Linked DNA regions of Homo sapiens. The protein of the gene in region 2 interacts with the protein of the main gene of each other region in a biochemical or structural test. Each region holds a gene or a part of one and is shown on either strand. Other genes may lie near its edges. The genes, in order: SPATA2 and CYLD.

Region 1 (7,276 bases), on a different chromosome or scaffold from region 2:
GTGCAGGCCTCCGCCTCTGAGATCAATGCGTTAGTACTTCTTCACCGTGAAACCCGAAAGGTCGGTTGATGTAGCCCTTGGAGCTGGAAGGGGCGAGGCCGGTCTATCTGTACACGAGATGGGAGAGCTGGGTGGACTTGTAGTTCAGCTGGTTGTTGGGCATGAACTTGTGCAGCTCACTCTTTTTGTAGCAGGGGTCATAATGGTAAGCGCTGAGGCAGGCGTCACATGAGACTTTTGAACACTGGGTGCAGGTGTTGGTGGCGCCTGGGCGGTTGCAGAAGCCACAGCGGGAAGTGGGCGTGGTGGAGGGCTTGGATTTGGAGTGAAGGTGCGGGAGGCGGTCGAGGCCCTGAGTCTGGCCTGGGTACTTCTCCCGCAGAGATGCCCCGTGGGCCAGGCTGTCATGAGTCGAGGCCTTGCTGGGGAAGGCGCTGGGCTTGGAAGCTGGAGGACAGGTGAGCAGGCTGTCACAGCGCTGGCAGAGGGAGGAGCTGCAGGACAGCCCGCAGCTTTGGCACTTGGAGAGGGCGGACTCTTTGGCAGGGGGCGAGCGCTTGTGGTAGAGGGAGTGGGCATCGTTTCTGAGCAGCCACACATCCGGCCGCAGAGCATCCTGCCGACGGTAGGTGGCCCTGGGTTCAGAGTCTGTGTACAGATCCACGTCATCCTGAGTGGAGAAGTAGGTACCGCGCAGCAGGGCCGGGCCGTTGCTGGGGGAGGCGGGTGGAAGCACATCCGGGCTGCCGTGGGGGGAGCTGGCCATGGTCAGCAGCGAAGGGGATGGGCGGATGATCTCATCCTTGAGGTCGTCCCCCACATCCGTTGCCACAGGCTCCTTCCGAAGACTCAATGAGGCCTTCAGGGGTGGCTTCCGGCTCTCCCAGTAGCTGTCATAGGCATCCACTGACCTCGAGGGCTTGGTCACGCGGGGCTTGTAGTAGTCCTTGGCCGCCCGCTCGCTGGCCGACTTCTGGAGTGCCACTCGTGACATGGAGGCCGTCAGGTGCTCCCGGCCCTCTGCCCGCCGCCGCAGGGCGTCCGAGCAGCCGCGCACATCCTCTGCACTGCTCTTGCGCTCGCTCACAATGTCCAGCTCGGAGTAGCCCTTGTCCTTCACTTGTGAGTGGATTTCTAGCATCTGCTCACACTCGACTTTGGCCAGAAAGAGCTCAAAGGAGACCATCTTCACCTGGAGGGTCTCCACGAGCTCTCTGAGCTTGTATGCAGTGCCCAGCTCAGGTGTGTAGCCCATGCAGCTCAGGATGGCTCGGATGTCCTCTTCCAGTAATGTCGACTTGACATAATAAACAAAAGGGCCCGTGTAGGTCTAGAAGGGAGGGAGTAGAAAAGAAAGGTGGGGTTTTCTGTCAGAGACACAAGACAGAGACTATGTCAAAGCAAAGGATGTCCAGCTCTGAAGTGGGGCGGCGGGGAGAGGGCAGGGCAGGGAAGGATCTCGACAGCCTCACCCTGCGGGAGGCAGAAGACGCAGGAGCTGGGGCTTGCTAAGCACTCAGGAATTGTGCAAGGAAATGACCCAGCAGCTCCTTTCTTTTGTTTGAGACGGAGTCTCGCTCTTTTGCCCAGGGTGGAGTGCGGTGGTGCGATCTTGGCTCACTGCAACCTCCGCCTCCTGGGTTCAAGCGATTCTCCTGCCTCAGCCTCCTGAATAGCTGGGATTACAGGCGCCCGCCAACACGCCCAGCTAATTTTTCTGTTTTTAGTAGAGATGGGGTTTCACCGTGCTGGTCAAGCTGGTCTCAAACTCCTGACCTCGTGATCCACCCGCCTCGGCCTCCCAATGTGCTGGGATTACAGGTGTGAGCCACCGCGCCTGGCAGCAGCTACTTTGTTAAACACAGGAAGCAAAACCTCTCGCTTCCTAGTGGGGCACGAAGACTCTACTCCATATGAAGAGAGAGCCTGGGCAAACATGGCTGAATAAAGGGGCCAGATTACAGGCAGAACGCGGTGACAATCAGAACGTTCCTCTCTGGTATTTCCATGAGGGGCTGAGTAACACGGCAGACTGAAGGGCCTGGCTAGGTGACAGCTCTCCTGTGCCATCCCCTCTCTTGATTACCACTCCTCCCATGGCAGAATGAAGAAGCCTGGCTAGGTGACAGCTCTCCTGTGCCATCCCCCGCGTGGTCTGATTCAGGATCCCTCTCTCAATTCCCCCTCCTCCTCTACTGTTCCCACTTAGTACAGAACACCCCTCAGCTTGCTGGGACCGCTGAGAAGCTTCCTAACTGCTCTCCCCATCCCTCCCACCTCCCCCCACCCCTCTACAGCCTACTTCCCATACCACAGCCAGAATGACCCTCTTCAGATGCAAGCCAGATCCCACACTGCCTCCTTCCCCGCCTACTCAGAACAAATCCAAGCCTTGCCCTGGGCCACAAGACCCTGCATAACCTGGCTGCCCCTGCCTTCCCAGCTTCTCTGCTTAAGGTGTGGCAGCCGGGCCAGAAACGGTTCAGAGGTGATGCTGGAGAGACGGGGAAGGTTCGGAGCCCGGAAGGATCTGAGAGCACAGGATGGATGGGATCAGACTGGCATAGCCTCTCAGGAGGGACTGCCAGGGGCAGGAAGAGAGAAGGAGGGCCTGTATGGAGGCTGCTCCAGGACCTCACCTTGATGCTTCTGAATTCCTTCTTCCACGGGTAGAGGAAGAGGTTGATGCCCACCGTCTCCAGCATGCTGAAGGCGCCGTGCAGAGCCCGCAGGCTAGAGGAGCTGAGCGAGCGCAAGGAGCTCTCCACCACCTCATAGAACTGGATCAGCCGGAATCGATAAAAGGGATCCACCTTGTGCAGGCTGAGCAGGGTTGAGGCTGCCACCCGCAGGCACTCATCGCTGCCAGGCCGCTGCCTGCTGGTGGTGGTATCCACTTTGCTCTCATGGAACTGCACGTACTTCCGAAATAAGTCATCCTTGAATTTAGTATCCATTGAACTGGGCTTCCCCATCCGATCGAGGGGGGCTACCTTATCTCCTCCATGGCTTCTGGATTAGAGGCAGGGACATCACTAAAAGCATGGACATGTTGCCGCCTGGACCAGCGGAGTGCTCTGGAAGGAGGGGAACAAGAAGCATGTCATTCCTCGATACGGTCGCGCTTCGGCTTCAGGTCGCTGAGGCAAAATGAACAGCAGAACTGGCCTGGGCTACACTGGACCCCAGCAGCACACTACAGAGCATGTACTACAAGCAGGGTTACAACAGAGGCCAGAGAGAGATGGACCTTGACTTTGTTGTGCTCACAAATGAAAAATACGATTAATATTCCTGAAAGAGAAATTCGGGTGAGTACAGCAGGAGCTCCTGTCCTGGTTTCGTTGGGGAAGGGCGAGTTTAGGAAAGCCCTCTTGAGACAGCAACAGACCTGAAGGATGAGGAGTCTGCCAGGCCAAGAGGCCGGGGAAGGAGTCGCAGTAGAGGAAGGCCCTGAGCTAATAGTACCAGAGGCTCCAGACACGTGACGAGCTTCACACACACTAACTCGCTTACTTTTTTTTTGAGATGGATCCTTGCTCTGTAGCCCAGGCTGGAGTGCAGTGGCGTGATCTCAGCTCACTGCAACCTCCGCCTCCCGGGTTCAAGCGATTCTCCTGCCTCAGCCTCCCAAGTAGCTGGGATTACAGGCACCTGCCACCACGCCTGGTTAATTTTTGTATTTTTAGTCAAGATGGGGTTTCACCATGTTGGCCAGGCTGGTCTCGAACTCCTGACCTCAAGTGATCCACCAGCCTTGGCCTCCCAAAGTGCCAGGATTACAGGTGTGAGCCCCCATACCCAGCCTCACTTTTTCTTCTTAAACAATCCTAGGAGAGAGACGCTACAGGCAGCCCCAGTGGACCATGTGCAAACTGAGACACAGACATTAGAAACTGCTCAAGGTAGGCCAGGCACAGTGGCTCACACCTGTAATTCCTGAACTTTGGGAGGCTGACGGGGGAGGATGGCTTGAGTCCAGGAGCTCGAGACCAGCCTGGGAAACACGGTGAAACCACGTCTCTACAAAAATACAAAAAAATTTTTAAGAAAAAGAAACTGTCCAAGGTTATAGAACTCTCAGGAGGCAGAGAAGCTGAGCTCAGAACCCAGGCAATCTGGCTCCAAAGTCCATGCCCTTACCCACCACACCCTGCTTTCCTGAGGCAGGAAGCCTGGAACAGTAACAGAACTGCAGCCAGTGAGGCCGAGGCCACGAGGGCAGGGGCATGAGGAGAGGCAGATGCCAGCATCAGCGGGACCCTCAGCCCCAAGGCCGCAAGAGCACATTCAGAATTCGATATTTTATACAAAGAGCCACGTGAAGCCACTGAAGAGTTTACAGCGAGGGGAGAGAGATACGGTCTTATTTACAATTTTCAAAAGAGGCCACCGTGGCTACCGGCCCCTGGAGTGCTGTTACCGGCCTTTGACAGCCTGCGGCCCCTTTATCACCAGAGCGCTTGACAGCCCCCTGTTGGGAGAGGATAGAATGTTCTGAGCTGGGACACAGGCTTTACACAATCTTGTCATCTGCTTAGCCACTTGTTAGTAGAACAGGCACAGATCCAGCAATATTCTTGTCACCACAACGCTGGGAGCGAATCCGGATTAATGGAGGGACACTGCCAGGGCCAGGGGAGACAACACGCGCAGGGTCACGGACACGGGGTCCAAGGCCAGGCACCTGCGAGTGAGGCCAGGGCTGCTTCTCCAGGTTACTTGGGCAAATTGCTCCACCTCCCTGGGTGTCGGTTTTCTCCTATAAAACGGGGTTAATAATAGCGCCTCTGTCCAGAGCTGGCGAGAGGATTATGCATGATGGAATATGAAGCTGCTCAGAGAGCCGGCTCCGGGAAGTCCTTGATGGCCATTGCTGTTGTCTGAAGGTGCTGTACCCCTAAGTGGACAGGCCTTCTCTGAGTGGGGCAAATACCTCTGACTGGGTGGTAGATGTGCATTTTCACATGCTCTGGTCCTGCTGCTCCTGCCCAGAAGCTCCGTGGGTGCAGGCCTGTGACCATCTTGCTCAGTAAGGTGACCTGTGTGCTTCATGTCTGCTGAGTGTGGGAGACAGCAAGGGGCTGAGAGAAGCTGCAGCAGGACTGGGCCTGGCATGTGGGGGACTCCTTTAGCAGACCTGTGTTCAGCTAGGAAGGTCCTACGAGCCCAGCAACTATCAGGAGGTCAACAAAATCATCCTCATCTCAAAGAGCCAGTAGTCTGGCTCCTCCACAGATTTTGTCCCCAGGAGGAGACTCCTGGGAGTACTAATGGTGCGGTGAGAGGTGGGATGTGTAGCAAAACTAGGGACACAGAGAGGCCACTGTCTCCAACACACTGCACTGCTGAGGGAGCCCAGTGCTACAGTGACAAATAAGGCTGAGGAGTACAGGAGGCAAACACATCCATTTAGGGGCCAGGTGCGGGGGCTCACGCCTGTAATCCCTAAACTTTGGAAGGCCAAGGCAGGAGGATTGCTCAAGGCCAGGAGTTCGAGACCAGCCTGGGCAACATAGCAATACCCTGTCTTTACAAAAGAAAACAAAATCCACTTGGGATAAAATTCTGCTTCAGGAAGATTCTCATCATTCAGGCCTCAGCTCAAACATCAGCCTCTAGAGGTACCACCCTATCTCACCTTCCCAGTTCCACACTGTCACATTCTCCTACGATAACCACAATCTGAAACTATCAACTTCATTCATTCATTAGCTTCCTCTCTTTGTCCACCCCTCACCCTCCCTGGTAAGCTGGTAAGCTCGTGGTAAGCTCCATAAAGGCAAGGACCATGTCTGTGTTGTTCACCACGATGCCTAACACAGAGCCTGCCTGTGCTTGATAAAGTAGGTGAAATGGATGCTGCAGCCAGGCACGGTGGCTCACGCCTGTAATCTTAGCACTTTGGGAGGCCGAGGCAGGTGGATTGCCTGAGCTCAGGAGTTCGAGACCAGCCTGGGCAACACGGTGAAACCCCGTCTCTACCAAAATTTAAAAAAAAATTAGACGGGTGTGGCAGCATGCGCCTGTAATCACAGCTACTCGGGAGGCTGAGGCAGGAGAATTGCTAGAACCCAGGAGGCGGAGGCTGCAGTGAGCCGAGATCGCCCCATTGCACTCCAGCCTGGGCAACAGAGCGAGACTCCGTCTCTAAAAAAAAAAAAAGAAAAAGAAAAAGAAAAGAGAAAAAGAGAAATGGATGCTGCAAAGGATGTCTGCATTCACGATGCCATCACTTTAGTTTCTCATTGGTACCTCCCAAGAATCCTGGGAGATCAGCTGGAGAGCAAAGAAACGGGCTCAGAAAGATGGCATGAGGTACGACAAGTAGCTCAAGGTTAGCAGATGATGGACCCGATAATCCAAGCCTGGCCTTCTGACTTGGAACCTGTATTCCTCTCACCACCCCACGATTCCCATGTCCAGCAAGCATTTCTGCAGCCCCCACCCTCTGCCTGAGCTGGACCCAGTCGGGGAATGGGGATGGGTGGGACAGGTAGAGGACAGCAATAAAGGAGACACATCCTGCCTGCAGCTCTAGCTGGAAGAGCATACCACCTAGTATCAAAGTAGGTATGTGCTCTAACTTCATACTGTTCTGTCCATAAAAAAATAAACAATTTAAAATGTATATTCTCTTAAAAAATAAAAATGCAGGCCAGGCGCGGTGGCTCACGCCTGTAATCCTACAACTCTGGGAGGCCAAGGTGGGTGGATCGCCTGAGATTGGGAGTTTGAGACTAGCCTGGCCAACATAGCGAAACCCCGCCTCTACTAAAAATACAAAAATTAGCTGGACGAACACCTGTAATCCCAGCTACTCAGGAGGCTGAGGCAGGAGAATGGCGTGAACCCAGGAGGGAGAGGTTGCAGTGAGCTGAGATCGTGCCATTGCACTCCAGCCTGGGCAACAGAGCAAAAACTCCATCTCTACATAAATAAATGTATTGCACCACTGGAGAGGATAGTCACACATGCATTTACCATTCTTGACTTATCTAAGAGAAGCTGCCATCACGCCTCTGGCCCCAGGGTCTGTTTTTTGGTAGTCTGAGAACCATTCAAACACAGAGACATTAAGCTTCCGAATACTGCTGTAATTTTTCTCCAAGGAAGTCAGCCTTGAACTCAAAGAGACTGATTTTTTACAAAGTCAGCCAGTCTCAAGCTCGGCTCAGCGTCTGCTGCTCTATAATCGCACCACAGTCCACACCCTTGTTTGTTGCTGAAAAACAATAAATAAAGGAAAGGGATCCAAACAGCCCAGCTGATGTTC
Region 2 (7,276 bases):
TAGGGTTAAACATATTATTGTGTTTCAACTCGTTGGTAATTTTCATTCAGTATTTATTACCAAGATATTCATAATCACACAGTTATCCAGCCTGAAGTAAGATAGTATTTAGATGAGTCATTTGTGATATACTCACTCAAAGTGATTCAACCTGCAAAATAATAAGAGAATACAAGTGAAAATTTCTCCCTTCACACTGACCCCTCACCCCCACCTGCCCTACGGTGACTTTGAATTTAGCTGTGCTTCTTTTTCCTTCAGTTGTCTTACTGTTCCCTAGGCCTTTACTTAAAGGCAGAAGCTGAGTGAATGTGGATTGATGTTGGGTTTTTTTTTGTGTGTGTTCTCTCTTTCCTCTTTGTTTTTTTTTTTTTTTTTTTTTTTGAGACCAGGTCTTGCTCTGTCACCCAGGCTGGAGTACAGTGGTGTGATCATAGCTCTCTTCAGCCTGGACCTCCTGGGCTCTAGCGATCTTCCCATCCTCCAGAGTAGCTGGGACCCTGAGTAGCTGGGCCCACAGGCAGACACCACCACACCCGGCTAATTTTCTTTTCTTTTTTTTTCTTCCTTTTGGGACAGGCTCTCATTCTGTCACCCAGGCAGGAGTGCGGTAGTGCTATCACAGCTCACTAAAGCCTTGAACTCCAGGGCTTAGGGGATCCTCCCACTTCAGCCTCCAAAGTGCTGGGATTACAGGAGTGAGCCACTGTGCCTAGCCTAGATGATGTAGTTTTCAGTATCTAACTCTGTACTGAAAGCGTAAAAAATACCAAACTAACAAACCAACCTTCTTGATGATAAATAACTCATTTACAATGTGATTTAGATCTTTCCCTTCATATTGTGTTGAGTCAGTTTTTACTGCTTGGGGTACCTAAGACTTTAACTATTTAACTACTATGCACATCCCAGTGAAAGTAGACTGTTGGTGTTATATTCACTTCTACAGTGGGGAGAAATGTATGTTAGCATATTTTTATTGCAATACTGGTATTTTGAGTACATAAAATAAATATATATATATAATGGAGTGTGTATATATGTGAGAGAGTGTGTGACAGGGTCTTGCTTTTTCACCCAGGCTGAAGTGCGGTGGCGTGATCATGGCTTGCTGCAGTCCCTCCCTCCAGGGCTCAAGCCATCCTCCCACCTCAGCCTCACAAGTAGCTGGGACTACAGGCACATGCCATCACACCTGGCTAACTTTTGTACTTTTTGTAGAAATGAGGTTTCACTGTGTTGCACAGGCTGGTCTCAAACTCCTGGGCTCAAGCTGTCCACTCACCTTGGCTTCCCAAAGTGTTGGGATTACAGGCGTGAGTCACTGTGCCTGGCCGAGAATATTAGTGATCATTCAGTTGATTGCCTTGTATATCTCTAGACTCGAGCCGTAAAGTTTCCCATTCAACTTTCTCTATCAGTTGCAGTGAAGAGAATCAATTTTTAATAAGAGAGTTTCAAACTTGTTCTTAATATATTCTTTCTGAAAGAGGAAAGGCTGTATCCTTTATTTTTGGATAATGCTTTTGAAATATTTGATAACTTGTGCTTGACTATTTTAGTTGTCTAACATGACCCATCCTATTGCTAAGTCTAAGCTCATTTCCACTTGTGCTAATGAAAGTTAGGAAAAAAGTTACCACTCCTTGTAGAGTTCACTTTAAAATATGGTACTTGAAAGCTATAGTTTATTACCCTAAAACATTTTTATAAACCTAGCAGTTATATCAATTTTTACTGTGGATTCTCTTCCTTAAATTATTTCAGAAAGCAAGCTTATAATCAAATTTATTTAACATAATGTCCTAATGCACATATAGTAATTTAGTTTTGTCTTAATAATAGATTATTAGCATTAATGATTTTTATTTTAAATTGTGACATGAATAGTTAAGCTACAGGACCAATAGAGTAGGAGCTGTTGGTATAAAGCAATTATTAAGATTCAGGGAAGTTTCTGATTGTAATATTTGAAGACATTGTTCTTAGGAATTTTAAAAAAGAATTTCTTTTCAAAATAGAATTACTTTACCTTTTTCAAAAAAATTTTGGCCCTAAAAATCTAAATACATTTTAAAGAGAACCAAAACAACAGCTCGTTTTTTTGAAAGTTGCTTTTTGACTGTCTTAACCTTCTGCTAGTGACCAGACTCTCTATTCAATAAAGCCTATGTGCCCTTTGCTCCTAAAGACCCTTTCAGAATGTATGCATTCCTCTTTTCACGATTGTTGCTTTGTGTTTTCAAACACACAAACATATTTCACTACCTGGCTTCTCAGAACTGATTCGAAGCGATAAGTTGGAAAGCAACAAGGCCGTAAAAGGAGTCAAATGCATACAGCAGGAAACCACAGAAAATGGCTGATTGCAAGGGAAAACTCTAGACAGTAGATCTGTAGAAAGCATTCGCGACCTCAGGAAGCATAAGATACAGCCTTTTAACAAAATAACAGCCTTGCAGATCAAGAGTTATGCAAAATAATTTACAGTCATAATGATACATCAATGATCAAGAAAAAAATAAGGACATTTTCTTGTGGAAAGTGTTGACATGTTAAAAGCATTTTGGTCAAAAAGAACCAACACTTCAGTTTGGTCCTTTAAAGGAATCCAACCAAATTGAGGGGTTGGATAGCTGTTTGGGCAGCCCTTATAAGGAGTTTTGTTTATATTGTGTCAAGATAGAGGTTTCCACAGGTGTCTTATATAAGTGGCAAATATAAATTGATCCCATTCTTGCTGAAGTAGACAGTGCCCTCAAGTGGAATTAAAACAAACACACCACAAAAAAGAAGAAAAGAGAACCACTTCATGCTACCTCTGCTTTTACCCTCACTGAGTGTTACACAGATATTTCAGTCATGTTGGTTTGAAGGAGGTGCCTAACCTGTATCCTGTCTTGGCTAAACCACATGTCTCATGCTGGCTTGTAGAGGGAGAGACTTTTAGGAACGTTACCATTATGGAATACTTCATTATCTAGCAGTGCTTTCTAAAAGAAGTGTTCCACTGTGTATAGATTTGCCAGGTTGTTTGATCATTAAGTGATTAAATCTAAAATTTGGTTCTTTAGGAGTATTTATTTTTTAATTGCTAGAATAAAATAAATATGATAGTGCTATCAATTGCAGCCATTACCCAGAATAATGGAAATGGATACCTCTATCTCAAGGAAGGATGAAATGAAAGTACTGTCTTTGGAAACCAGATAGCCACATTCTTATGACAGGGATACCTAGGAAGTATTGTTTTCAGCAGAAAATTAATTAAAATAATGAAGTAAAGTCTCAGTTTAAATTAATGAAATTGTGTAGTTTTTTAACCATCAGTTAAAATAGGTTTGAGAATGAGCCTACTTCATTGGAAAGATTATTATTCTTGTAAAAATTTTAAATGAGGACCAGGTGCAGTTGCTCATGCCTGTAATCCTAGAACCTTGGAAGGCCAAGGTGGGAGGATCATTTGAGTCCAGGAGTTTGAAACTGCAGTGAGCTATGATCGCACCAATGTACCCAAGCCTGGGTGACAGAGCGAGACCCTGTCTTAAAAATAAATAAATAAAATAAAAATAAATGAAAATTTGAAAAAGAAATAATAGAAAGAAATTATAATGCAGTTATATCATGATATTCCCTTGCTATGTAGTACAAGTTTTGATGCTACAAAATTGATTTTTAAAATATTTTTAATATAGTCATATTATAATATCTGATATTTGCGATTTGAGAAATCAGATAACTATGATTAATGTGATGAACATTGCCCATCTTCAGAAAAAATATATGAAATGAAGTTGAGTCAGAGGTAAAATGTTCCATTATCACAATATGGCCATATCATAGCTATCATTTATAGGCATGAGCCACACAGCTCAGCCCGAAACGCTACTTTTAAAAGTTTATTAGTGTCAGAATATGGGACAGGCCTGGTGGCTTACGACTGTAATCCCAGTGCGTTGGGAGGCCAAGACAGGAGGATTGTTTGAGCCCAGGAGTTCAAGACCAGCTTAGGCAACATAGTGAGACCCTGTCTCTACAAAAAATAGAAAGCTTAGCTGTGTGTGGTGATATGCGTCTATAATACCAGTTACTCGGGAGGCTGAGGTAGGAGGATCACTTGAGCCTGGAAGGTCTTGGCCACAGTGAACTGTGATTGTGCCACTGCAGTCCAGCATGGGCAACAAGAGTGAGACCCTGTCTCAAAACAAATAAATAAAAATAAATTAAAAAAAGTTAGAATATGTATATAAGGGTAATCTTTAAAAGTTTTTACTAGAATCTGATTTTATAAATTTCAGTGTCTTGGAAGCAAACATTGTGTTGTCTTTGAAAGTACTTTACAATTGGATTTCATTAATTAAATATGCACAGTTACAGTAGATAAAAGTAATACAGTATGTATGTCTTTTAGCCCTTTTAGATATTTTTTGAAAATATTTCATTTGTGTGTATGTGTTTACTGGTCAAATGAAAATTTTAAAAGTCTTCAGTCTTAATTTTCAGTCATGTAGAATGAAGTCTAAAGTTTATTTTTGCTTTTTCACTAGGCATTTTGATTTCCTTTCTTTTTACAGCATGGACACCACGTTGCTGAAAACATGCTTTGGGACTGCCACTGAATTTATCTTTTGCGGTTTTATGACAAAGTTATTAGTAGTTTCCCTTTTTTGAATTAGTATTTTGAAGTTAATATCACAATGAGTTCAGGCTTATGGAGCCAAGAAAAAGTCACTTCACCCTACTGGGAAGAGCGGATTTTTTACTTGCTTCTTCAAGAATGCAGCGTTACAGACAAACAAACACAAAAGCTCCTTAAAGTACCGAAGGGAAGTATAGGACAGTATATTCAAGATCGTTCTGTGGGGCATTCAAGGATTCCTTCTGCAAAAGGCAAGAAAAATCAGATTGGATTAAAAATTCTAGAGCAACCTCATGCAGTTCTCTTTGTTGATGAAAAGGATGTTGTAGAGATAAATGAAAAGTTCACAGAGTTACTTTTGGCAATTACCAATTGTGAGGAGAGGTTCAGCCTGTTTAAAAACAGAAACAGACTAAGTAAAGGCCTCCAAATAGACGTGGGCTGTCCTGTGAAAGTACAGCTGAGATCTGGGGAAGAAAAATTTCCTGGAGTTGTACGCTTCAGAGGACCCCTGTTAGCAGAGAGGACAGTCTCCGGAATATTCTTTGGAGTTGAATTGCTGGTAAGTTTGATAAACCATTTTAGTAGTGTGTTTGTTTGTGTTCATGTGTGTCTGTGTATTTGTATGCACATACATATTTTTCTCCTTAAATACGAAATAAATTTTCCCAAGAGTCTTCTGTAATTTTTAATATTCATCATCCTTGCTGATGAATCCATGTTGTGGTTGAATCCATAATCCAAAACTTGCTTATAGTTGTCACTGATAATATGTGTGAAAATCACCTTGGCGTTTATTTCTGTTGGAAAGAGACCCAAGAACTCTGTGATATGTTTCCAAGCTTAATATTCATTCTTGAGAACTTAAATGTCAATTATATTTTGACATTCTTGCAAATAGAATTGTATGCCTTCTTTGCTTCTTGATTTAATTTCTTTTGTTTACTTTTTAATGATGAATTGCGAAGATGTAAAGATGATGTCGAAACTTAAAAAACTATGTACTATGGTAGGAACATACAAAGAGATTCACCTGGCTATTGCAGACATATATATTTTAGAAATTTTAACATTGCCTGTATTAAACATGAACGCTACCAGTTGTAAATAGTTACATAAAAAATTGTTAATTACCTTGCGTTATCATCTATAGGTTTCTTAGTTCTTCTTAATGTATGTTATTAAATAACAATTTAGATATAAGATTTTTGAAAAAAAAGTTGCAGAAATTTAAACTTGCTTATAATTGTCCCCGATAATATATGTGAAAATCCTTAGAATTTATTTCTACCGGAAGGAGACCCAAGAATGCTGTGATATGTTTCCAAACTTAATATTCATTCACAAGAACTGAAATGCCAATTACATTTTGACACTCTTGCCAATAGAATTGCATGTCTTCTTTGCTTCTTGATTTAATTTTTTTTAAAAGCAGTGATTGTAAACAATTAGGAATTTGAATCCCAGTTAAGCCATTTACTAGCTGGGTTGCCAGGTTACTTAACAAAGCTACTTAACTTCTCTCATTCTGCATCCTTACCTGTACAATGGTGTTAATAGTACATGACTTGTAGTGTTTTTGTGGTACATTGATGCAGGATTTAAGCACAGTGACTGACAATAAGTGCTTAATGAATGGAGCTAACATTACTGCTATTTTAAAGTAACATTTTCTTTTTATAACCAAATTAATGTTAGAATCACAACGTGGAATTCAGCCTAGCTTTCTCATGATAGAGTTATGAATTGAAATTATCAGATAATATTATTTCAGCATCAGATACAACTTCTTATTTTTTAAAACACTCTAAATCCAACAGAAACTGCTAATAATTGTATTTCTTATTATATGTATCATTTAGAAATTTTCCAGAGTGATTTTCCTGAAATCCCTAGAGTGAACCCCTTTTCCTATGGATCGTCTTTCTATATCTATTTCTTTCCCTTCTCTCTTAAAAACTAGGAAGAAGGTCGTGGTCAAGGTTTCACTGACGGGGTGTACCAAGGGAAACAGCTTTTTCAGTGTGATGAAGATTGTGGCGTGTTTGTTGCATTGGACAAGCTAGAACTCATAGAAGATGATGACACTGCATTGGAAAGTGATTACGCAGGTCCTGGGGACACAATGCAGGTCGAACTTCCTCCTTTGGAAATAAACTCCAGAGTTTCTTTGAAGGTTGGAGAAACAATAGAATCTGGAACAGTTATATTCTGTGATGTTTTGCCAGGAAAAGAAAGCTTAGGATATTTTGTTGGTGTGGACATGGTAAGAAAATTTTGGATTAAATATCTTTGTGATATATATATTAGTTTATATATATATGTATATATATATATAAACATATATATACACACATATATATACACACATATATATGTATAGTTTATATATATATGTATTAGTTTTAGGACCAATTTACTTGCAAATTGAACACTTTGAATATTTAACATGATCTAATTTGGAGTACTTTAAAGAACATGTTCTAATTTATCTTTGGTAAAGGAGCATTGAAATAGAACAGGGGTCTAGATACAGATTACATTTACTTTTTTTTCCCATTTGAATAAACTAGAATAATGTTCTCTATCTTTAAATTTGCCTTATTGTAGCTGACCAGTAGACAAAACAAAACAAGA

The links.
Region 1: the proteins of CYLD (region 2) and SPATA2 form a complex in vitro, tested with the Homo sapiens proteins (one study listed by BioGRID).

The regions. Positions count from the first base shown.
Region 1 is NC_000020.11:49,905,516-49,912,791, forward strand, and holds part of SPATA2 (spermatogenesis-associated protein 2), read right to left. Parts: exon of another isoform or gene 4,937-7,276; intron 3,078-4,936; 5' UTR 2,976-3,077; coding exon 2,640-2,975; intron 1,331-2,639; coding exon 104-1,330; 3' UTR 1-103.
Region 2 is NC_000016.10:50,745,002-50,752,277, forward strand, and holds part of CYLD (ubiquitin carboxyl-terminal hydrolase CYLD), read left to right. Parts: intron 1-4,547; exon of another isoform or gene 4,548-4,574; 5' UTR 4,575-4,697; coding exon 4,698-5,201; intron 5,202-6,602; coding exon 6,603-6,905; intron 6,906-7,276. UniProt on the Homo sapiens protein: Deubiquitinase that specifically cleaves 'Lys-63'- and linear 'Met-1'-linked polyubiquitin chains and is involved in NF-kappa-B activation and TNF-alpha-induced necroptosis.